Linked DNA regions of Homo sapiens. The gene in region 6 interacts genetically with the main gene of each other region. Each region holds a gene or a part of one and is shown on either strand. Other genes may lie near its edges.

What was found.
Region 1: changes in PTAR1 (region 6) and GTF2I are lethal when combined (synthetic lethality), as found in Homo sapiens cells (one study listed by BioGRID).
Region 2: changes in PTAR1 (region 6) and VPS41 are lethal when combined (synthetic lethality), as found in Homo sapiens cells (one study listed by BioGRID).
Region 3: changes in PTAR1 (region 6) and UNC50 are lethal when combined (synthetic lethality), as found in Homo sapiens cells (one study listed by BioGRID).
Region 4: changes in PTAR1 (region 6) and EXOC2 are lethal when combined (synthetic lethality), as found in Homo sapiens cells (one study listed by BioGRID).
Region 5: changes in PTAR1 (region 6) and RNF145 are lethal when combined (synthetic lethality), as found in Homo sapiens cells (one study listed by BioGRID).
Region 7: changes in PTAR1 (region 6) and CTDSPL2 are lethal when combined (synthetic lethality), as found in Homo sapiens cells (one study listed by BioGRID).

What each region holds. Positions count from the first base shown.
Region 1 is NC_000007.14:74,664,218-74,667,717, forward strand, and holds part of GTF2I (general transcription factor II-I), read left to right. Parts: intron 1-3,500. UniProt on the Homo sapiens protein: Interacts with the basal transcription machinery by coordinating the formation of a multiprotein complex at the C-FOS promoter, and linking specific signal responsive activator complexes.
Region 2 is NC_000007.14:38,738,192-38,741,691, reverse strand, and holds part of VPS41 (vacuolar protein sorting-associated protein 41 homolog), read left to right. Parts: intron 1-3,500. UniProt on the Homo sapiens protein: Plays a role in vesicle-mediated protein trafficking to lysosomal compartments including the endocytic membrane transport and autophagic pathways. Acts as a component of the HOPS endosomal tethering complex.
Region 3 is NC_000002.12:98,615,089-98,618,588, forward strand, and holds the end of UNC50 (protein unc-50 homolog), read left to right. Parts: intron 1-1,118; coding exon 1,119-1,258; intron 1,259-1,343; coding exon 1,344-1,445; intron 1,446-3,057; coding exon of another isoform or gene 3,058-3,079; coding exon 3,080-3,216; 3' UTR 3,217-3,427; downstream 3,428-3,500. UniProt on the Homo sapiens protein: Involved in the cell surface expression of neuronal nicotinic receptors. Binds RNA.
Region 4 is NC_000006.12:490,640-494,139, reverse strand, and holds part of EXOC2 (exocyst complex component 2), read left to right. Parts: intron 1-2,953; coding exon 2,954-3,015; intron 3,016-3,500. UniProt on the Homo sapiens protein: Component of the exocyst complex involved in the docking of exocytic vesicles with fusion sites on the plasma membrane.
Region 5 is NC_000005.10:159,171,554-159,175,053, reverse strand, and holds part of RNF145 (RING finger protein 145), read left to right. Parts: intron 1-895; coding exon 896-1,071; intron 1,072-3,500. UniProt on the Homo sapiens protein: E3 ubiquitin ligase that catalyzes the direct transfer of ubiquitin from E2 ubiquitin-conjugating enzyme to a specific substrate.
Region 6 is NC_000009.12:69,725,512-69,729,011, reverse strand, and holds part of PTAR1 (protein prenyltransferase alpha subunit repeat-containing protein 1), read left to right. Parts: intron 1-3,500.
Region 7 is NC_000015.10:44,486,629-44,490,128, forward strand, and holds part of CTDSPL2 (CTD small phosphatase-like protein 2), read left to right. Parts: coding exon 1-72; intron 73-3,500. UniProt on the Homo sapiens protein: Probable phosphatase.

The DNA.
Region 1 (3,500 bases), on a different chromosome or scaffold from region 6:
TACTGTTGTCCTTTTGTTCTGGAACTCTCCCTGCTGTCTTCCTGTTTGTTTTCTCCTCTGTAAAATTCTTGTTTTGGTATTCCATGCCTGTTTCTGGCAGTACTCATTTGCTTTTTACCACTTTGGCCTACTGAGAAAGTAAGAGAAAGTTCAGTATAGCCAGGAACTGTCAGAGTTGTTGGAGGATTGACTCATTCTCCTTTGGTTGTAACTTGTTTCTGTTTTTGTTTTTTTGAGAAGGAGTCTCCCTCTGTCGCACAGGCTAAAGTGCAATGGCGCGATCTCGGCTCACTGCAACTCTCGCCTCCCAGGTTCAAGCGATTCTCCTGCCTCAGTCTCCTGAGTAGCTGGGATTACAGGTGTGTGCCACCATGCCCGGCTAATTTTTGTATTTTTAGTAGATACAGGTTTCACCATGTTGGCCAGGCTGGTCTCAAACTGCTGACCTCAAATGATCCACCTGCCTCAGCCTCCCAAAGTGCTGGGATTACAGGCATGAGCCACCACGCCTGGCCAACACTCTATGTAGGATTTTTAAAGAACTAGTTACTTAAAAAATATATCATGAGAGGGAAGACAAATTTATAAATTGAGAGAGGGTTTATAGCTTATGGCTAGCGACACAAGTTTGAAGTCTGACTGCCTGGATTCCAGTCCTGGCCCTTGCCGTTTCCTGCCTGTGCGACCTTGGGCATTTCACTTCATCTTTGTATGTTTCCCTATTTTTTGTTTTTTTTTTTTGAGACAGAGTTTTGCTCTTGTTGCCCAGGCTGGAGTGTAGTGGCGCGCCTGGCTCACCGCAATCTCCGCCTACTGGGTTCAAGCGATTTTCCTGCCTCAGCCTCCTGAGTAGCTGGGATTACAGGTATGTGCCACCACCACGCCTGGCTAATTTTGTATTTTTAGTAGAGACGGGGTTTCTCCATTTTGGTCAGGCTGGTCTCGAACTCCTGACCTCAGGTGATCCACCCGCCTCGGCCTCCCAAAGTGCTGGGATTACAGGTGTGAGCCAACAGTGCCCGGCCTATTTTTTATTTTTATTTTTATTTTTTGAGACAGTGTCTTGCTCTGTTACCCAGGCTGGAATGCAGTGGCATGATCTCAGCTCACTACAACCCCTGCCTCTCGGGTTCGAGTGATTCTTGTGCCTCAGCCTCCCGAGTAGCTGGAATTATAGGCATGCGCCACCACACCTGGCTAATTTTTGTATTTTTAGCAGAGACAGGGTTTCACCATGTTGGCCAGGCTGGTCTCCAACTCTTGACCTCAGATGGTCCGCCCACCTCAGCCTCTCAAAGGCTGGGATTACAGGCCTGAGCCACCACGCCTGGCCCCTATTTTTAAAAATGGAGTTGATAATAGAACATGTTTCGCTTCTAAGAGCTGTTGCAAGGATAGAGTTTAAGTGCTTAGGTTGCTGTCTGGCATGTAGTAGACACTCAAGAAATATTAGTCATAAAAGTACTATTATAAAGACTTTTGGGAAATTGAGGAAGCGAAAATTTTACTAGTAATATCGACTATGACGTTAATCTCCAAGAACTCTGGAGAATATGAATTGCAAGGGCAAGGACTTATTCCTCTGTGGGATTTTCCCCTGTGACTGTTACATTGTTTTTATGTTTTGTTTTGTTGAGATGGAGTCTCCCTCTGTCACCCAGGCTGGAGTGCAGTGGCGGGATCCCAGCTCATTGCAACCTTCACCTCTGCCTCCCGGGTTCAAGTGATTCTCCTGTCTTAGCTTCCCAAGTAGCTGGGACTACAGGCGTGCGCCACCATGCCCAGCTAATTTTTGTATTTTTTAGTAGAGAAGGGGTTTTACTATATGTTGGCCAGGCTGGTCTGGAACCCCTGACCTCAGGTGATCTGCCCATCTCAGCCTCCCAAAGTGCTGGGATTACAGACGTGATCCACCGCGCCTGGCCAGAGCTTGACAGTTGGATTGATGAAACCTGAGAATGTATGCTTTATATGTTGTTCATTTTAATTTGTTATATCTAGAAATTTAGCTCTTACTGTTGACTATAACACATACATGACGTGAGTAGAATTTTATCTAGATTGAGTTTTCAGACCGTAATTGGTTTCAAGAAAATAAATAAGGTATTGGAAGTGAACTAAAATTAGTAACTGGCTTTGGCATTAGACTTTAATGCACTTAAATTACATGATCTCATCTGTGAGATAATTTGACAGAGGAGGACGATGGCATGTATTATGTCCATATGAGGAAAGGGCAGAGAAATAGACCCTGCAAGATTCATTAGTGTTACTCCTTCCTCCTGTTCGTTTTCTTTCTTCGTTTTCCCCCCCGGTAAGCATTAAAAAAAATTTTTTTTGGCTGGGTGTGGTGGCTCACTCCTGTACTCCCAGCACTTTGGGAGGCCATGACTCACTTGAGGTCAGGAGTTTGAGACCAGCCTGGCCAACATGGTGAAACCCCGTCTCTACTAAAAATACAAAAAATTGGCCGGGCACGGTGGCTCACACCTGTAATCCCAGCACTTTGGGAGTCCAAGGCGGGTGGATCACGAGGTCAGGAGATCGAGACCATCATGGCTAACATGGTGAAACCCTGTCTCTACTAAAAATACAAAAAAAAAAAAAAAAAAATTAGCCAGGCGTGATGGCGGGTGCCTGTAGTCCCAGCTACTCAGGAGGCTGAGGCAGGAGAATGGTGTGAAACCGGCAGGCGGAGCTTGCAGTGAGCTGAGATCGCACCACTGCACTCCAGCCTGGGTGACAGTGTGACACTCTGTCTCAAAAAACAAAAACAAATTAGCTAGGCGTGGTGGTGCGCACCTGTAATCCCAGACACTCGGGAGGCTGAGGCAGGAGAATCACTTGAACCCTGGAGGCGGAGGTTGCAGTGAGCCAAGATCACGCCATTCCACTCCAGCCTGGGCCATAGAACAAGACTATGTCTCAAGGAAAACAAACAAACAAAAAAACACATCTCTACTGAAAATACAGAAGTTAGCTGGGAGTGGTGACAGGTGCCTGTAATGCCAGCTGCTTGAGTGGCTGAGGCATGAGAATCACTTGAACCCGGGAGGTGGAGGTTACAGTGTACCGAGATCTTGCCACTGCTCTCCAGCCTAGGCGACAGAGCAAGACACCATCTCAAAAAAAAGAAAATCCTGTAAGATGAATTTGTTCCTTTATGAAGAATAAATTTGTGTCTGCCATTTACACCGTGAATGCCTTTCTTTGGAGTGGTTCCTTGTAGTGTTTTTTGTTGTTGTCGTTGTTGTTAAATTGTGGTAACATATACTTAACACAAAAATTACCATTTTAACCTTTTTTTGTGGGGGGAGGGACGGGATGTCACTCTGTTGCCCAGGCTGGAGTGCAGTGGTATGCTTTTGGCTCACTGTAACCTTCGTGTCCTAGGGTCAAGACATCCTCCCACCTCAGTCTCCCGAGTAGCTGGGACTACAGGTGCATGCCACCACGTCTGGCTTGATTTTTTTATTTTTTGTGGAGATGGGGGTCTCACT
Region 2 (3,500 bases), on a different chromosome or scaffold from region 6:
ACATGGAATCGAGGCGAGTATGAAAGCAGTTATAGTGGCCATTAGATCGGGCCACCCCAACATTTTTAGGGAGAATAAGTATTGTATCCGTTTGAGGGAATTAACAAAAATGTTTTTCAGTAAGGTAATAATTTTTCTTGAAGCCATTCAGTAGTCTGTTGCCTGAAAGCTGTTAAAATATAGGATTTTATTTAACCTTTTGTCTGTTTTCTAGAATAGTGCAACTTTATTATCCTTGTTAAATCAGAATTTGTCATAAGAACAGTGGAACTCATTATTTTCATATAAATTATTATACTAATTACAAAGCATCTTAATCTTTTCCTTAAAAAGACTCTAGCAATTACTATTTTTCAGGATGCTGGTAACTTCTATAGAACTTGAATTAAAACATTTCCTTAAAAATTCGGACTGTTGTTCTTCCTCTAATTTACTTGAAAATGAGGTTTTATTAATAATGGATGAAATTACTTTCCTAGAAACAATTTTTGCAGGTAAAGCCAAAAGAAAAGGCTATTAGCTGAGGAGCATTATGATGTGAGATCCATTGGGCCAGGATTCACCATGCAGGTTGCAAAGTAGAGGTCTGCCTGCACTCAGGGTGACAGCCTTAGGTAAGAGGCAGGGTGGAAAGGAGAAGATATTGCAGGAACATTGGTGGCATCAAAAACAGATGTAAGAGATGAAAGGGATGGCAGAGCTGCAGGGACAAGAGGTTGTGCCAGAGAGTGTGATGTCATTAATGTTTCTGAAGCGGAGTCATGGTGTATACGTGTTCAAAAAGTGGGATGATGGTAAAGGTCATTTGTGTAGAATTAGTAGAGAAACTGAGGCCACAGCCTTTCTGAGTCATCCTAATGGACATGAAGGCCAGGAGGAAGAAACAAGGTGCTCTAAGCCAGGCTCCAGCTTCTCCACAGGGGACAGTAGTATTAACTGGACAACACGACTTTAAAAGTGAAGAAGTCTAAAGATGGGGGTGGGGGTGTGAGAGATCATGCAGCCTTCACTCCGGAGAGCTTTGTGGGAAATTGGGTTCATGGGAGAGAAATTGGTATTCGTTAAGCCAAAGAAGTAGATTACCTGTTCCGCAAAAAGCTTAACGATATATAGGCATATATTTCCAGTGGGATTTGGAGGTTTGCAGATGACCCAGGAGAAAGGTTATTGGAAGGAGAATGAGAAAGTCAAGAAGGAAATAAAAATATGGGAATGGGTTAATAGGCAAAGAGAGGTGAGGTGAGGAGCTGGCTTTTCATGCCACGCCCTAGGAATCCAGAAAGGTGACGTCCCTGCCTGGGGAAGTCACTAATTTTGAAGGTCAGATTGGGCTTTGGTGAAAGTGTTTTCAGTATCAGAACTTATAAGCCTCTGAGTGTGAGTGAGCTTGATAATGACCTTTACTTCATTGACCCTTACCAACCCCAGGCATGCCAGGATATGCTCTAGGTTTCAAATCCACATTTGATGAGAAGTCATTTAGGTGTCTCTGAACAACCCTCCCCCAAGGGAAGTAGTAAATAATTATCCCTCTGCCTTTCAGCTGTAGTGCAAGAAGCTTGCACTAGGTTAAAAGTTGTGCCTTTCTTTTTCGCCAGCCTCCGCAATGACTGCAAGACCACATAGTGCATCCCTATGACTAGGTCATTCTTCCAGAGAACCAAGCTCATGGGCACCACTGTGATCTCAGTGTTCATTCATTTTTAATAAATAAATTTGCATCATTCTGAGTCAGCTGGTAATAAAAATGAAATTATTATTAGATGCAAAATGAATGCCTAACATAAAAATATCTACTAAAGAAGCTACTAAATATTTTTTCTTAATTAGAGCTTTTCCTTAAGATATGTAAGTATGTAGTTCGGTAATGTGTTAAGGAGGTTCAGAATTATTTAGCTAGTGGGTCCAAAAAGCTGTGGTTGCCTGTGAATCCCCCAACCAAGGGGTGGCTTCTCAGAGGGTGAGGGAGAGATGAACAGGGAAGGCAGCAGAGCCTGTGGAAGCTGCTGCATCTGGAGTCCCCACTGGAGCTCAGGCATCTTGTTGGAGAATGCAGTCAGAAAATGCTCTCCGGGGGCAGGTGGTTCAAAGAATTCCAGGCATTATTTTTCCCTCACAGATAAAGAGTTTAAAATATTTTTCTGCTCTTTTTACATAATGTATTAATGACCGCTTAATGTGTTTCCTTTCTCTAGGCAACCTATTAGGGTTCACTGTAAAAATAAATCTATCCAGAGAGCATTTTGCAATTTCCAGAAGGATTTCACTTGCATGTTTTTATTTTATTCTTTTTTTATTTTGTATTTTATAAAACTATGTTGTTTTTCACATACTCTCACCTAGCAAAGTAAAAAATTAGCAACCCTATTCAATCTGAAAATTTGGGAGAAATTTTGCATGTTCATCAATTTCCAGGAATCTGGAAGTGACTGTGTGTGTGATGGGGCTGGGTGGGACAGTAACCCCAGGGGCTATCAAGAACCATTCAGTAATGTAGGGATCTATGGTCAGATGTTGGGGAAATGTTCTCACAGGGCTTCTCAGCACCTTTTCTTGCTGGTATGCATTGGGAATCTCTAAAGGGAGATTGACAATAGAGTATACAGCATTTAAAACTTGGGCACTGCTTTGGGAGATCATTCATTAGCCAGTTGTTAATTGGAAAAGCGGGTTAGAGAATGTTGTGGGAAAAACTTGAAATGAGTAACTCTTCTGCTTTTAGTTTCACGTTTTCTAAAATGTAACAGCTCTCTTCAACCGAAGGTTAGCATCATTAGGTTTGTTAGATGCCTATGACATGACATAGTTTAAGGAAGTAGTATAATCAACTACATCAGCAGTGTTTAATTTCTTTAACTTTCTATGTTTTTATACCCGGCTACCTTGTTAGTGTAATCACTGCACAAATTTTAAAAGCTTCATGAAGTCAGTAAGATGCAAGTGGCATGTATTGCACTTCATAAGCTTTAAATGTTCCTAGGCCTGATTTCAAGGACAAATAGCACTTATTTTGATATAACTTCCAAAACAATATGGTATCAATTATACTTCAGTTTTTATGTAAACTGACCAGTTTCCAGTTTATGCTACAAATTTCTAATGTTTTTACATTTTCTATTTTTAAAACATTATAAATTTAGCATGTAGTTGTTGAGCGTTTATGTCCATTTTTGTAGTTGGAGGCTTTTTTCCCTTGAGAATTTCAGCATCTTTGTTCTTAAAGACTTCTTTTGACGGTTTTATTTGACAAACATTTAATCTTCACAACACTTCTGTAGGAAATATCATCTTTGTTTTACAGATGAGAAGGTTGTCTCTCAGAAAAGTTAAGTGATTTGCCAGTCTGGGAAGGTGATGAACTGGGTTTGAACACAGATCACAGATCCTCTGACTAAATCTCATGCCTTTTTTAAATCAGTGACTACATTACCTTTTACAGCCACAAGTAATCTCTAAAAAATCTGCTAATTAGAGTGGGGTCTTAGTTTTTTTCATTATGG
Region 3 (3,500 bases), on a different chromosome or scaffold from region 6:
CATACACTTGAATAATTGTTCTTATGGCTGGATGCGTCACTCTTCCTAACTGCTTCTTACTATTTCATCCTCCTTTTAATAGGGGGTTGACCCAGGTCTTGGGCCTTGGGCCTGTTCATTATCCACATTCATTTTTTTGGTGACATCATTCAGGCCCGTGGCTTTAAATATTAATATCATCTACACACTGATGAGTTTATATTTCCAGTTTGGACTTGTCTTCTAAACTCTAGACATTGTATACAACTTCTTACTCCATACTAGTTGGCATCTTCAACATAACAGGTCCAAATTCAAACTTCCGCACACTCCTTCCCACCTCAAAACCACTCTTCCCACAGCCAGCCCCACCTCAATTAAAGGCAGCTCCATCTTCCATTTGTTCAAGGCAGAAATCTCTCAGTCATCCTTGAGTATTTTTTTCTCATACTCCAATCCAATAATGTCAGGAGCTCTACCTTCAGAGTATCGTGTGTGCCACATCTTAGCACCTCCACTGCCACCAGCCCCTCTGCTCATCTCTTCCTTGCAGTAGCCTTCTAACTGGTCTCTGCTGCCAGTCTTGTCTCTGGAGTCTGTTCTCAGATCCGCCACCAGGGAGGCTCTGTCAAGGCATTTAAGTCAAATACTTTTCTCAGAACTCCACAGTGGCTTCTCACGTCACCAGGAATAAAAGCCAAAGATTGTAAAACGGCCACAGGCTTCGTAAGACATGGAGCCTGTGTGACTTGATGTTGGGCCCAACCCTGTTTCTTTTCTGGCTTCATTTCTTGCTCCTTTTCTTTCAGACACTGGTCTTTTCACCATTCCTCAGGCCTGCCAGGCACCATCACTATCCTTGGGTCTTTACCCAAATGTTACTTTATGACCCTCATATGTACAATTGCATCTCAAGTTTGTATTCTCCACATTTCTCTGCTGCTTTCTCTCTTTCCATAATACCATCTGACATAGGTGTATCATTGTCAGCCTTCCTTCCTAGATGGAAGGCAGGGATTTTTGTCTGTTTTGTTTACTGGTATATCTCCAGAATTTAGAATGTCTGCCGCATAGAAAGTCGTCAGTAAACATTTACAGAATTCATTTTATTATGAAAGAAATTTTAATTTTGCTCTTAGGTTCATCTCTAACAAGTATTTAGTGAAACGACAGAGCAGAGACTATGATGTGGAATGGGGCTATGCTTTTGATGTGCATCTCAATGCTTTTTATCCACTCCTGGTCATTTTGCATTTTATCCAGCTTTTTTTCATCAACCGTAAGTAGCAGTTAATTAGAGTATTATCCAAGTCTTCATTGCATGCATTGGTAAAGGGACTCATGGTCTGCGTCTCTTCTGGCAGATGTTATCCTGACAGACACATTTATTGGATATTTAGTTGGAAATACCTTATGGTTGGTTGCAGTTGGCTATTATATCTATGTAACTTTCCTGGGATACAGTGGTAAGTAATTTTTTTAAATGTTTTTGGTTGAGAACATAGCAAGAGGGGGAAAGTTGTAACAGTAGTACAAACAGCTGCTTTTATGGAACACTTACAGGCACTATCCTAAGTATTTTATGTGCATTATCTCATTTAATCTTCATGACAATTACACAGGTTTGTTTCTGTTTTCAAATGAGGAAACTGAGGCAGAGAGATTAAGCAACTTACCCATGGTCATGCAGCTAGAAAATGGCCTAGCTGGTATATAACAGATTTTATACTTTCAAGGAAACATGTTAAACCATACTGGTTATCTCCAGATGACTTGCAGGAATCCAAGACCATTCACTCCTCTTCTCCCATGCTTTCAGGTTGTGGGTTACCAGCAGGAGGGTAGAGCGAAGAAAGGTGGGGCCCAGCATCTTGTTACATAGGTCTATGAACTGAAGTTCTCTAAAGCCTTTTGAATCATAACTTTTTGCCCCATTCTTAGTTTTCATGATTACCGTATGGTTCTGTAGACAATCACAGAAGATCGGGCCCAACATTTATTGTCCTCAGGACATGTTTGCAGATTTACTGTTAAATCCTGTTGTCAGTTCATTTTTCTTAATATGAATGAGGAACATATATTATTTTTCATTTATGTTAAGAAATGATCCCATTAAATAAAGCCAAATAAAATCTAGAGACTGCGCTGTACGTTTCTTACCCCTTCCTTTCCTGTTACTGTAGATGATTAGGGCCTAACTGTAAATACAGATGGCTCTGACTATGCCTGGCTCCGGAGTTATTCCCACCCCGGTTCTCTCCCCCCTTGGCTGGTTTGTCAGGGAACACTTAACCCCTTCATTGTAATGCCTTGTTTGGGGAGTGCTTTCTCTAGTCCAGGGGAGATGTTTGTGTCATTTCTAATGAATTTTGAAAGTGTTTTGTGATGAGAACACTGCAGCACTGTGGTTTCTCTAAGTGGTTATTTGAACACTCCTGGTAACGACCTATACCACTTAGAATAGTTGGAGTACAGCTCAGTTTGTTTAAGAACTTCCTATATGAGAAATACTTAGGTCGGGATGCATGGGGTAGGGTCCCGCTAACTAAGCAGTGAGCAAGAAACATCAATATTTGGAGCCAGACTTTTATATTTAAGAGTTTCAGTTCTTTTCTGAAGCCTGGGCTACTAGTTGAGCTCACACCCTCTTAAAGTGGGGGTATAATGCTTTACACTGGAAAATCTCAAATAGCTAAAAGATGTTTTCCTATAACGCCATCCATCTCTGTACTTTAAGTTGGACTCCTAGAGGTTTCTGAGGCAGTCACAAGTTTAAATTCACCACTGTTTTCATGAATATTTGTGACATTTCTCCCTCATTGTTAACCTCTCTTGGTCCAGTGTATGATGTCCCACTCAGCCTCTGTGCTGAAATAATTCCTCTCCTAGGTTTCTTCCCAGCCCTAGACAAGGAGGAAACAGCACAGAGGGGTTGGGAAGAGTAGTCTAGTTCTGGGCATAAATAGCATCATCTTACTGATTCAAAATATGCATTCCCTTCCACCCCACATGTTGAAGTAAGCTGTCTTTCAAAATGTTCATTTATTAGTCATTTATTTTTTTTTTTTTTTAAATCAGTTTGGATTCCTTTCTTTTCCAGCATTGCCATTTTTGAAAAATACAGTAATTCTTCTGTATCCATTTGCACCTCTGATTCTGCTCTACGGGCTTTCCCTGGCACTGGGATGGAACTTCACCCATACTCTCTGTTCTTTCTATAAGTACAGAGTGAAATAAAAAGTGAGAAGAAGATTCAATCGTAACTGTGTCAACAGTATTGTGAAGTGATCATTTCTTGTAAAACTTGTAAATAAACTATCATCTTTGTAGATATCTTAAAGGTGTAAAGTTTGCAAATTTGAAGAAATATATATTAACACTGTGGTCAGGTACATTCCTTAAAACTAATTAAATGTACATTTCTATAATAAATATTTTTTAAACTAAAGCATGTGTGTTCACTCTAATATTTGCAAATGTAAGAGCTACATGTAAAATGCTAATGGCATGGGGAAAACATA
Region 4 (3,500 bases), on a different chromosome or scaffold from region 6:
ATCAGATCTTTGATATTATCGTTTAAGTTGAAAGGTCATGGTTATTATAATAGTTCCATCACAGGAGATGAGTAGTATAAACTGTGTAATACTACAGATGAATTAACAGGCAGTCGCAGTCGCTACTGTGGGCCTTAGCAGTCTTAGAATTTTAACAGGCATCCGCCCTCTCTACACATTACCTCCGTAATCCATTTATCTGATGGCTAAACCACTCTCAAAACCAGCAGGGAGAGGTTGGAAAGTGATCTCAGAATTAGCTGGAAAATTTTTTCACGTACACATGTCCAGAAACTACTGGCCATCAAACTGTTCCAGCCTCCAGTTTTTGAGACCTCCTCGGGCCTGGACAGACATGTGTATTTTGAAAAAGGTCGTGAGTCTAAACTCCCGCTTCACTCTCCCACTGAGAATGACTTTGAGAGCTTCCTTCCTTGAGGCCATAGCTCTAAGAGGGATAGCAGGTTAACCTTTGATAGGCAATTAGGTGCCAAACTCCAGAACTGTCCTGAGAGCTTGGTGAAAAGGGGAGTGACAGTTTGGTGATTTTGGCAGATCTTTTAGCATGATGTTTTCTGGATTACAGTTTTGTAGGTATTATATAGCTAACCACAGTTTTTATAATTGGCATAACTTACAGGTTAATTAAAACACTCTATCACCTTGATTGAATAAAATTTCTACCAGAAGATTGGTTTTGTAGTAATTTAATCTTTCTCCTAAAATGGTCAGCTGAAAGTTCTACCTTTTTTCCTGGTAGGTCTGTTTTTACCTATACTAGAATATAAACAAAATAGAGACAGAAATTGTCATACTTTCTAGCATTTGTAACTTTCTAGTTATATACTGTTTTTCAGGCTTCTAAGGGACTGAAAAAATGAAACCAAACAATTGCCTTCCAAACAGAAAAAGGTCACTGAATATCCTGTGTCATATATATCTGCTTTGATCTAGATGGCTTACAGAATTTCTAATAAACTGTGAAGAGCTGGCTGTGTCTTTTGTCATTGTTTTATGTTTTGTCCACTCCTTGAGAATAAGGGATATTTCTTTTAAATGTTCTCCTGTGTGTCCCACTCACTGTGGGCACCTACTTCAGAACATCAAGTTATCATTGTCAGTGGGTCTGCTGGAGCTCCCAGGAAACTGACTTGTATGTCAGATCACACTTATTCATGCTTGCGTAGAAGTGAAAGCTTAACTTTTTTCTTAAAACTTTTATGAAATATTTCACATAGCATACGATCTGTCTACAATAGAAAAAGAATATGCAATTCAATGATTTTTGGTATATTCAAAGAGCTGTCCAGTCATCACCATCATCAATTTTAGAACATTTCATCCCAAAAGAAACCCCTGACCCATTAAGTCTAATCATTTGCCTCCCAAACCACCCTTTCCCCCTACAGACAACTACCAATTGGCTTTCTATCTCTATGATTTGTCTACTCTGAAAATTTCGTATAAATGGAAACATGAAAATATGACCCTTTGTGACTGGCTTCTTTCATGTAGCGTAATGTTTCAGGGTTCATCCATGTTGTGACATATGCCAGTGCCTCGCTTCTTTTTACATATAATATTCCACTTTAAATATGCCACATTTTATTTATCCATTCATCAGCTGATGGGCATTTGTGGTTTTCCCACCTTTGATTAATATGCAGAATGCTTCTGTGAACACTCCTATACAAGTTCTTGTGTGGACATGTGTTTTCATGTCTCGTGCGTGCATACCAAGGAGCGGAATTGCTAGGTCATGTGGTTACTCTATACTTAATCTTCTGAGGAACTGCCAGACGGTTCTCCAAAGTGGCAGACATTCCTACCAGCAATTTTTGAGGGTTCCAATGTCTCTACATCCTCACCATTATTTGTTATTGTCTCTTATTGATTATAGCCATCCTAGTGGGTGTGAAGTGATACCTCATTCTGTGGGTCGTCCTTTCACATTCTGGATGGTGTCTTTGTAGCACTGGATTTTTAATTTTGGTGAAGTCCACTTTATCTGTTTTGTTGTTTATACTTTCGGCATGATTTCTAAGAAGGGTTTCCTAGCCTAAGGTCACAAAGATTTACACTGGGTTTCTTCTGATAGTTTCATAAGTTTCTTACATTTAGATCTGTGATCCGTGTTAATTTTTGTGTTAAGGAAAGGATTCAACTTCATTCTTCTGCATGTGGATATCCAGTTGCCCTAGCACCATTTGTTGAACAGACTGTTCTTCCCCCACTGAGTGGTCTTGGCACCCTTGTTGAATAGCAGTTGATCATAAATATGAGGGTATACAATATTTAAATATATTTTAGCTTTGGAGTATGGCTGAAGTCAGAAAGTCTGAGGCCTCTAAATGTGTTACTCTAAGATTGTTTTGGCTGTTCTGAGTGCCTTGCATTTCCTTATGAATTTTACAATCAGCTTGCCAGTTTCCATTAAGGAAAAAAAAAGCAGCTGTGATTTTAATAGAGATTGCATTGAATCCATAGAGCAGAGTTTAGGTTTTGAGATTAAGGCAGTGTGCCTGCAAGGGCATAGGTGTCAGGAAGCATGCCAAGCCACATCCTTACCTCTGTGGGACACGGGCCCTTTCAGGGCAGTGTTTCAAAGTGTCTTTCCTCTTGCAAGACTAAAAGAAAAATTAGTGGTTAGAGAGTAAATACAGATGGCTGGAAAATCATGACACAGTTTGTACTTTTCATAGTGAGATATCTAGTTCCCTGCCCTCACACAGTCATCCTTGACTACAAGTTAATTTTCAGTCAACGAACATTTTGTGGTAGCAAATTTCTTCGGACTGTTTTAGAAACTCTACTCATGACTGGCGGTCACCATGGTGGTATTACGCCAACCCCATCCTACGATGAGCAGGCTGGAGACCCTTAACCTTAGTACTTGTTTATATTTGATAATATAAATTTTCCTGTTGTCACTTTGTCTTTTTCTCATTTTCAGGCGAGACTTGAAATCTGTGCTTTGAGGGACACTGTGGCTGTTTACCTGACACCCGAAAGCAAGTAAGTGGCAGTGTTCTTTAGTTGAGTGCTCTATTAAAAATAAAGGTTGTCTTACTAGTCAATTCTGTCCTCTGTAAAGATGACTGATCAGAGCACATGCTCATGAATTTGTGATGTGATAAAGTTTATGTCAAGGCCACTTTGTAACACAATGTAAATGAAAGGGGTTTAATATAATTTTTTCATTTACTACTGACAAATCTTAGTCTTATAATACAGCAGAGTATGACATACTTCTTAAAGCAAAAGAGGATAAGAACTGAGTCTTAGTCTGTTCATAGCAGACTCTGAAGGACAGCTCAAGTGCTGTAAATATCAGTATAAGAGGAAGCCTTGTGGTTTCTCTGCAAAATTTTGTAGTGGAAATTTGATAATTTTTAGCTGTTTTGAATGAAAGTCAGGATTTCCTACCATTGAAATATCAGTAGGTGAAGTGAAGCAGAACTACTGTTTGTCTGTGCAAAATTGTTTACTACGTGGGCAAC
Region 5 (3,500 bases), on a different chromosome or scaffold from region 6:
ATTGAAACATTCTGGTATCACATTGAGAGATTCCAGCAAGACCAGCTGACTGCTAGATACTGGTTTTGTAAGCTGTCCAGCAGAATTCCTGCTGTGTCACCAGGGTCTGGTCCCTGACATAGTAACTCTAGAAACTTGGTTACACCTATGCTCTTAGATTGAATCAGATTCTGTGATTGATTTTTCCTAATCAGTTTCATAAGAAGAGTGTTTTATAAACTGGAAAACTAATTTAGTGAGTTGCAGATTATTAAGCCTTTTTTTTTTTTAAGATATATCCTTTTCCTAGTGTTACTTACACTTGGCAAACCAAATGGAAAAACATAGCTTGATAAAAACACAGTAGGAGGAAGGGGAATTGATGTGTATGGGAGAAAAAGACTTGCTAACTATCTTTGCTCTGCAAAATTTTTTTCCAGTGATTAAGTACTCTTCTTCCATTGAACTGTTTCTCATTTGTGACATTTCTGAATAAACCCTGAAAGTTTTTACTTTTGCATTTTTTTTCCTAGTGCCTCAAGCAGTGTTGTATCAATTCATGCTAGTCCTGATTATTTTGATTAGACATGAGTGTTTACCAAGTCTCCTCAAACTACCTTTTAAGGTTATTTTGTACTGAATATGACCTTATTTTGACCTTATCCCTGAACTATTAGGGCAGTTTACTGTGCTATTAGATAAGTGTGTGTCAAGTGTTAATAATAATGCAAAATTAGTAAGTTTTAAAAAACATGCTATTTATTAACTATATAGGCTAACTTTAAAGGAATTTAGCTGAAACAGTCTTGCAATCAAAGAAAAGCTATTTAATATTTTACTTCTGATTTGACTCAAGTGTTTAAAGTGTTTATTGATGGTGATGCAAGAAGTTTTCCTATCTTACGTTTTTATTTAGGTAGTGGAGGTATATGGCCTTCTCGCCTTGGGAATGTCCCTGTGGAATCAACTGGTAGTCCCTGTTCTTTTCATGGTTTTCTGGCTCGTCTTATTTGCTCTTCAGATTTACTCCTATTTCAGTACTCGAGATCAGCCTGCATCACGTGAGAGGCTTCTTTTCCTTTTTCTGACAAGGTAATTAATAAGAGCCTATGATACTATATATAACCTTAGAAAGAGAAAACTTTGATCTAGGAATAGTAAGTTTTGCAGATTACTTTTATCGTTCATGTTACACAACTTCGTATTTTGTTAAGATAGGATTTTCATTCACTGGATACCTAGGTTTGGCAATGCAGGGAGGTGCTAACATAATAATGTGGTTTATTTGGCTGCACTATGGACCAGAGTGTAGCAAATGATTTGTGGAAAGGTACATAGCAAATCGTAAAAGTATTTTTTCAATTTCAAGTTAAAATTATTGGGTCAATCAGAAAAAAGTATATTATAAAAATAACATTTATTGAGTATTTAAAATGTACCATACCATTAAACACTTTGCCTCACATTAATCTTTACAACGACCCTAAGAGATAGGTGCCTTTATTATAATTACCATTTTATAGCTGAAGAAACTGTACCAGGAATAACTTGCCCCAGGTAACACTGCCAAAAGAAGCAGAACTGGCACTCAGACCCACCTGAGTTCGAAGCCTGTGACTTACTCTCTATACTTTGCCTTTGTCCCTGTTGACTTCAGTATCGAGAAAGAGTCCGGTAATTGGTGAAATGGGTAGATAATAGTACTTTACTGTCTAACCCAGGGGTGTTCAATCTTTCGGCTTTCCTGGGCCACATTGGAAGAAGAATTGTCTTGGGCTATACATAAAATACACTAGCACTAACGATAGCTGATGAGCTTTAAAAAAAAACTTGCAAAAAAAAAATCTCATAGTGTTGTAAGAAAGTTTACAAATTTTTGTTGGGCTGCATTCAAAGCTGTCCTGGGCTGCAGGTTAGTCAAGCTTGGACTAACCCAAAATAATTCTAAGACTCGGTTTTTAATATTTAGGGGTTTTTGTTTTGTTTTGTCTTTTTAAATCTCATGTCATTTAAGTCATTTTCCCATTTTATTGTGAGCTTCTGCTAGATCCACATTTGTTATTTTTTCCACTCTTGAGTTTGAATCTCACATTCTCAGAATCTAGTACATGAATATACATCTTGGTTCCCTTGCTCATTGTCACTTTAAAAAGTAGGGATGAAAATCTGTCCTCCTATAAAGTAAATATAGGTAGATAACAGTTTTAAGTTCTAGTTAATAGTCATTGTTTCTCAGCCATCCAATATGATGGAAGACTGTGTACTAAGTGGTGTAGGCTATGAGAAATTTAAGACAAGTTTACTATCCTTAAGGAGCATGTTACTAGGAAAGCATTAACACAAATGTAAATATTAAAAATATACAGGACAAAAACCTGTTTTAAGAAATAAGTGGGATAAACTTATACTGGTACTGAATCAGATTTTGAACTTTCTAAAAATGAATAACAATTATAAGTAGCTTCTATAAACATGCAGTAAGTTGATGTCAAATTCAAATACATTTTAACGATTAATCTAGTATTAAGTAAATTTGACTGCTATTTGTTTTTGATATAAGTATTATGGAGGTTTTATGCAGACTTTTTTTTTTTTGAGACGGAATCTGGCTCCGTCGCCCAGCTGGAGTACAGTGGCACAATCTCGGCTCACTGCAACCTCCGCCTCCCAGGTTCCAGCAATTCTCCTGCCTCAGCCTCCCAAGTAGTTGGGATTACAGGCATGCGCCACCACACCTGGCTAATTTTTATATTATTAGTAGAGACCATGTTGGCCAGGCTCATCTTGAACTCCTGACCTCAGGTGATCCACCCACCTCAGCCTCTCAAAGTCCTGGGATTACAGGTGTGAACCACCACGCCCGGCCTGAAGACTTTTAAAATGACCCAAAAAGTAACTGCATATAGAGAGAAAGAGAGACAGTTCTGTGGTTAGGATAATAAACTCAGCGTGAGACTGAATTGGTGGTGCTTTAAACCAGATTGTTACCCGCTGCAAAGCACAGTAAGATGAGGTATAGCATAGTGCAGTAGGCTTAACAATTTACTAAGCCATGAATGCATTTGGACTTATTTACAAAGTAAGAAAATAATATTCGGATATTCTGTGAAGTTTAGATATCTTGCTAACATAATTTTTTTCTTTTCTTTTTCTATGCCTCGCCAGGATAGATTGCCTTTTTTCATGATAAGAATGTTGTAATTTGCTTTGAGAAGTTCTCATATTGGTTCTTTTGTTAATTTATATCTCTGTAAGAGTTATTCTCTGTTCTTATCCATGCTTTTGTGTGCCTGGTAATGTTTATGTTTCTTTGCCAAAAAAACAACTTATTTAGAAAAAGAGATTGGGAGCTTACCAGAATACCCTGACTAAACAAACACACCAACCAACAATAAAGCACACCAGATCAAACTGCAAATCAAAAAAAAGGTTTTTTTTGCAGCCAGAAAATAGAAATTAAGATTTAATAAAAATGAGTTACTGAATGAAGAGAGAGCAAAGAAAAACTTTATAAATTTTCC
Region 6 (3,500 bases):
TTAGCATTGAATGAGACAGCAAATACTTTAAAGTGTTTGAAACAGTGCTTGGCACATGGTAAATGCTGAACAGATAGTAATACATACACACAACAATGCTATAGATTTTTTTCTTGTATTTTTTATAAAAGCATATATTTGTTTTCTAGTCAGAAAAAGGTTAAAGAATAAAGATTGATTAAAAGTAGTATAGGGTGGAATTATGACACTAATTTTCTATTTTATGTTCTCTCTGATGTCTGCATGCTTAAATAAACATTTAAGTAAATTTTAAAATATTTTTATATTTGAGGGTAGTGTGGCAGGAAAGATTCACAGTCAGGCAGTTTATTACTACTGGCAAATTACAAGTTTCACATAAAAAAAGCACATATAGTCATTTCTCCAAAAAACCTACCCACACCACCAATAAGGACATGAAAAGATATTCACCATCTTTACTATTAGGGAAATGCAAAGCAAAACCACAGGGAGTGAGATACCACTTCACACCAAAATACGGACAATAACAAATGTTGGTTAGGATGTGGAGAAACTGAAACTCTTATTTATGGCTGGTAAGAATGTAAAATGGTACAGCCACTGTGGAAAGCAGTTTGGCATTTCCTCAAATAATTAAACATAGAATCACTATATATTAATAAAACTATAGTTAATATATATCATATTCTTGGAGAAAAACATGCATTACCATATATGACCCTGTAATTCTGCTCCTAGGTATATACCCAAGAGAAGTGAAAACACATTCCATACCAAATCTTGTATGAGAACATTAATAGCCATATTATTTATAATAGCCAAAAAATAATACCTCACCTGAGGAATGGAAAACAAAATGTGGCGTATCCATGCAATAGAACATTGGCCATAAAAAAGGAAGGAAATACTGATACATGCTATAACGTGGATGAACCTTGAAAACATGCTGATTGAAAGCAGTCAGATTCAAGGCCACATATTGTATGATTTCATTTATATAACATGTTCAGAATAGGCAAAGCAGGTTAGTGGGTGCCAGAGGCTGGGGAGGAGGGAATGGGATGTAACTTCTAATAGGAATGGGGTTTTGTGGGGGTGGTGAAAACATTAGAAATTAGATAAGAGCAATGGTTGCACAATTCTGTGAATATATTAAAAACCACTGATTTATTTTTTCACTTCAAAAATGATTCTAAAGTACATTAGAGAGAATAAAGCTTAAAGAATAGCTGAGGAATTGTTGGGAAAAACAATAAAGAACACTCTACCATTAGATACTTACATGTTTATTAATAAGACAGAGTAATTAAAATTGTGATGCTATTTCAAAAATAGACTCAGTAATGGAACAGAATATAAAGTCCAGAAACAAATTCCAATACATAATATGTACATATTTCATTAATGATGAATATGGCATTTCACATAATTAGAGAAAGGATTCCCTGTTCAATTTGTGATGCTGGTAAAATTTATTGACTTTTTAGAAAATAGAAAGTTAGGTGGTTTTTTTTTTTTAATCTTAAATACCAAATTGAACTTTAAATGGAATAAAAACCTATATGAAGAAAAGAGACTCACATTATGCTAAGTGAAATAAGCCAAGCGCAGAAGGATAAATATTGCATGGTGTCACTTGTAGGTGGACTCTAAACAAGTTGAACTCATGGAAATAGTAGAATGGTGATTGCAGGAGTAGGGGTTGTGGTGGGGAACAGGGAGTTGCTGGTTAAAGGGTACAAAGTTTCCGTTAGGATGAGTAAGTTCTGGAGGTCTAATGGTAGAACATGGTAATTACTGTTAATAATGTATACCCAAAGATTTCTAAGAGCGTTATCTTAAATGTTCTTACCACAAAAAATAAAATACTTATGTGAGGTGATAGATAAGTTAATTCACTTGATGGTGGTAATCATTTCACAGTGTATACATAAAAACAATATGTCGTACATCGTATATATATATGTGTGTGTATACGTGTGTGTGTGTGTGTGTGTGTGTGTATATACACAATTTTAATTTGTCATTTATACTTCTTCAATAGACCTGAGGGAGAAAAGAAAAAAAAGAATTTTACTTGACTCCCAATCTTTAAAAAAAAAAAAAGAATTTAAAAAATCAGTTGCAGTAATATATCGAAAATAATATTTATAACACATATGACAAATAGAGACTTAATATCTTTAATATGTAAAGACCTCTTACAAACTCGTAAGAAAAATAATGACTATCACAAATAGTAAATTAGATAATTCATAAAAGTAGAGAATTAGGCAAAATAGGCAGTTCATAAATGAAGAAGCAAAGGAAAAGTAATCACACAAGAAAAGATATTTAGGCTTAATGATAATTAAGGAAATGTAAATTAAAATGAAATGTGATTCTTATTAGTGAAGATTAAAGTATTGATGATGAATTTAGGAAATAAGCATTAACATGTACTTCCAATAGGAGTATAAATTATACAGTCTTTCTGCAGGACACTTTATATATCAAGAACTTTATAAAGTTTTTTTCTTTGTTCCAGCAAGTATATTTCTACAAATTTCTCCTAAATAATTAGATATGTACATAGATTTATTTATGAGTGTTACTTATACAAGAGTAGAAACAAACACAGGAATGGTTAAATTCTGTTAATCTTGAGGGTGAAATATTTTACGAGTTAAAAATTATAGAATAATATTTAATGCCATAGGAATGTATTTATAATTGAAGTAGAATAAAATTGGTACAAAAGAATATCCCAGATTTTTCTTAAAAATAAACTCTGTGCATGTGCATACATAGAAAAAAACCTGAAAGATTTGTTTTCTGCCAGAATGTTACAAGTAGTGATCTCTGGCCAACAAAATAATGGATGATTTTTGTTTGCTTTTTTATATTTTCCCATATTATTGGAATTTTCTATATTGATCATTTTGTATCACTTTTATAATCAGAAGAAAACCCAAATACTATTTTTAAAAGTTTAAAGGACCTATGGCATATGTATTTTTAGTAGTCTTTCATTTTTAGCACGTTATCCCTCTTTTTCATAGCCCTGCATTTGCAGTTTTCTTGTAGTTTATTTATTCACTTATTCATGTTTTCATATGGAAGTAGGAAAAGAAAGATATTTAACGTATATCATACGAAGGTCATTTATCCCATCAGTACTGTACATTAAAGCCATATCTTCATATAGTATCTTTAGATCACTTAAAAGTTAACTGGATCACTTAAAAGTAATTGCTGTCTTTTTTAAAAAAATCATTGCCTCTATCTTTATATCTTTTTATTCTAACAAGAGAATACCCTGAAATTCCAGTTAAAGTTTCTAATATGCATCTTTATATCTTAGGGAAAAGAATATAGTGGATTTTCTCTTTAAAAGCCTAAGAATTTTTTTAAGAAATTGATTTTGTTGAAAATATATATATATATTTTTTTTCTTTTTTGAGATGGAGTCTTGTTTTGTCGCCCAGGCTGGAGTATAGTGGAGCAATCTCGGCTCACTGCAACCTATACCTCCCAGG
Region 7 (3,500 bases), on a different chromosome or scaffold from region 6:
CTCCAAGGACTACTTTGTTGGGGACCATATTTTCACCTGTCTTCAACTTTTTTTCACCAGCAAATAAAAATGGTAAGTATAAACTGTTAACTGTGATTTGGATTTTTTTTAAAAAAATGCATAGTTTGGGTTTTTTTTTTTTTTTTTTCTTGAGACGAAGTCTCTCTTTGTTGCCCAGGCTGGAGTGCAGTGACGCGATCTCCCCGCTCACTGCAGCCTCTGCCTCCCAGGTTCAAGCAATACTCCTGCCTCAGCCTTACAAGTAGGTGGGACTGTAGGTACCTGCCACCATGCCCGGCTAATATTTTTTGTATTTTTGGTTGAGACGGGGTTTCACCATGTTGACCAGGCTGGTCTCAAACTCTTGACCTTCAAGTGATCCGCCCACCTCGGATTCCCAAAGTGCTGGAATTACAGATGTGAGCAACTGTGCCCAGCAAAAAAATACATAGTTTTTAAAAAGATCTTTTTTATTTTATTAGCATATTTTGTCAATGTCTCGTGTATGTTTTCCACCTCATTAATAATATACAGCTCCTTGGGAGCTGGGTGTGGTGGCTGATGCCGGTAATCTGAACTCTTCGGGAAGCCAAGACAGGAGAATTGCTCAAGGGCAGGAGTTTGAGACTAGCCTGGGCAACATAGTGAGACCCTGTCTCTACAAAAAAATGTAAAAATTATTTGGGCGTGGTAGTGCACGCCTGTAGTCCTAGCTACTCCAGAGGCTGAGGTGGGAGGAATGCTTCAATCCAGCAGTTTGAACCCAGGAGTTTGAGGCTGCAGTGTGCTGTGATTGTACCACTGCACTCAAGCTTGGACAGCCAAGTAGGGGGTCCACGTAAAAAAAAATAAAAAGAATGGAATGGTCCTGTCTTCTGGGTGGCAGGGGTAGTGGCTCACAAAAGGCTTGAAAGAAAAGCCGAATCTGGAAAAGTGGCAAAAGCCATTCCAGGTAGAAGGAGCAGCATGCGTAGAGGCCTTGCAGCAGAAAACAGCATAGTGTATTTGAGAGCTGTTTGTAGTTTGTAATTGATGGAACATTGCATTTGAGAAGGGATAAGGTAGGAGAGCTATGAAGAAGTCATATAATAGAGCTAACATAGTAAGATGATGAACTTTATTCAAGTATGGGATAATTGAAAGTTTGTTTTGTTTTGTTTTTTTCCCCAAGGTGAAAGCAATTTTATTAAGAAAGTAAAGGAATAGGCCGGGCACCGTGGCTTATACCTGTAATCACAGCACTTTAGGAGGCCGAGGCAGGTGGATCATGAGGTCAGGAGTTCAAGACCAGCCTGACTAACATGGTGAAACCATGTCTCTACTAAAGAAAAATACAAAAGTTAGCTGGATGTGGTGGCATGTGCCTGTAATCCCAGCTACTCAAGGCAGGAGAATCACTTGAACCCAGGAGGCGGAGGCTGCAGTGAGCTGAGATCATGCCACTGCACTCCAGCCTGGGTGACAGAGCAAGACTCCGTCTCAAAAAAAAAAAAAAAAGAAAAAGGAATAAAGAATGGCTCCTCCTCCATAGGCAGAGCGGCCTGAAAGGTTTTAAACTGGTGAATAATACGATCAGATCTATGTTTTATAAAGATCACTTGGGCAGTAGTGTGTAGACTAGATTCTGAAGAGGCCATAGGCAGGTAGAACAATTAGTAGACTTGTAGTCGTTTGTGTGAGACTTGATGAGACCTTAATTGTATTAGAGAAGACAGGAAGGATCAGAGGATAGAAAATAGACACATTTTTGGTGCAGATTGGAGGTGAAAGAGAATAGAGATGAAGATGGCACAAGAGTAGAAGATTCAAGGAAAATAAAGTTCCTGGGAGATAGATAATTGAGTGTAATTTGGACCATGCTGAGTTTGAGATGCCATGAAATATTTAAATAAAAATATTCAGGCTGGGCGCGGTGGCTCAACGCCTGTAATCCGAGCACTTTGGGAGGCCGAGATGGGCGGATCACTTGAGGTCAGGAGTTCAAGACCAGCCTGACCAACATGGAGAAACCTATCTCTACTAAAAATACAAAAAAATTTAGCTGGGCATGGTGGCGCACACCCACCTGTAATCCCAGCTACTCAAGAGGCTGAGGCAGGAGAATTGCTTGAACCTGGGAGGCCGAGGTTGCAGTGAGCTGAGATCGCACCATTGCACTCCAGCCTGGGCAACAAGAGTGAAACTCCATCTCAAAAAACAAAACAAAACAAAAAAAACAAACCCCAGTAGTAATATTTTCCCCTCATGCTGAAGTAAAGAATCTCTGAAGGTGTGTATATCTCTGAAGGTGTGTACAGAAATAGATGTCTGGGGAAGAAGGAGTTGAAGTTTGATAGAGTTTTCTTGGAAGGAAGAGATGGTGTCATTAATGATAGTTCTAGTGGAAGGGACTTGGGAAGAATAGTGAAGGTTTACATTGATATTTTCTTTGTGTGTGTCTCTGTCTCTCTCTCCCCACCCCATACACACACAACCTCTCTCTCCACTCCCACATCTGTCTCTTCCCCCCTCCCCCCCACCTACCTCCTCCCCTCCCCCTGCCTTTCCCTGTCTCTGTGTCTCTGTTTTATTTGGATTATGACCAGTCTTTGTAATTGTATTTTTTGTTCCATAGCCTGCAACTAGGGTCTGAGAAGCCTGTTGGTTACGTTGATTCAAGAGGGATTTCTTGATGGATGACAGTGGAGGAATGAGGGATCAAGGATACTGAGGCTGCCAGTTTGACAGTGTATTTAAGTGATACACCACGAAGTCTAACTAGATGAGGAGGGTTGAGAAGAAGTGTTTGAGGGACGTGTTTGGAATTAAACAGACTGGCCTTTATCAAGTTTGAAGATCACATATAATGGGAGTATGAGATATATAATTTGAGGGTTAGGAGGTTGTGCTAAGTGGTTAATACAGTATTAGAATTTTAGGCTTCAGAGGTGAAGTTTCTCAGTGTTAATGTCCAGGTTATAGCTATGGTAGTAACTGATATAGAGCAGTATGAGTGAAGGTGGTTGGAGCTGAAGAGGGCAAGAACTTTGAGGATTAGTCATTGGATGAGTCATTGACATCATCTGTAATAACAACTAGAAAAAATACTGTGTTAAATAGAGCAGTAAACTAGTAGCTATGTATTAAACTTCTTTGCGATTGAGAGGATTCTGGCAGTAGATGGTAGGTGCCAGCAGTGAGGATAAGTGAAGAATTATATAGCCATGTGACATCAGTCTCAAAAGAGCAGACTTTTTTTGCACATTAGTGGAAAACCAGCGATTGGATAGTAGCAATGGAGATAAATGAATTCTGATTCAATTAGTATATTGGTATGGGAGAATAAAGAGCATTGAGGGAAGGGTATCAGAAAAACCTTTTAGGAAAGAGGTTAAACTTAAAGCAACAAGGGAGAAGGAATGTTCTGTAAGGAAGTTGAGAATATTGGAGGTTAATTTTTTTTGTTATTTTTGTTTAAAATGACATTTGGAAGATTCCAGAAGGAAATGGAAAGACCTGGG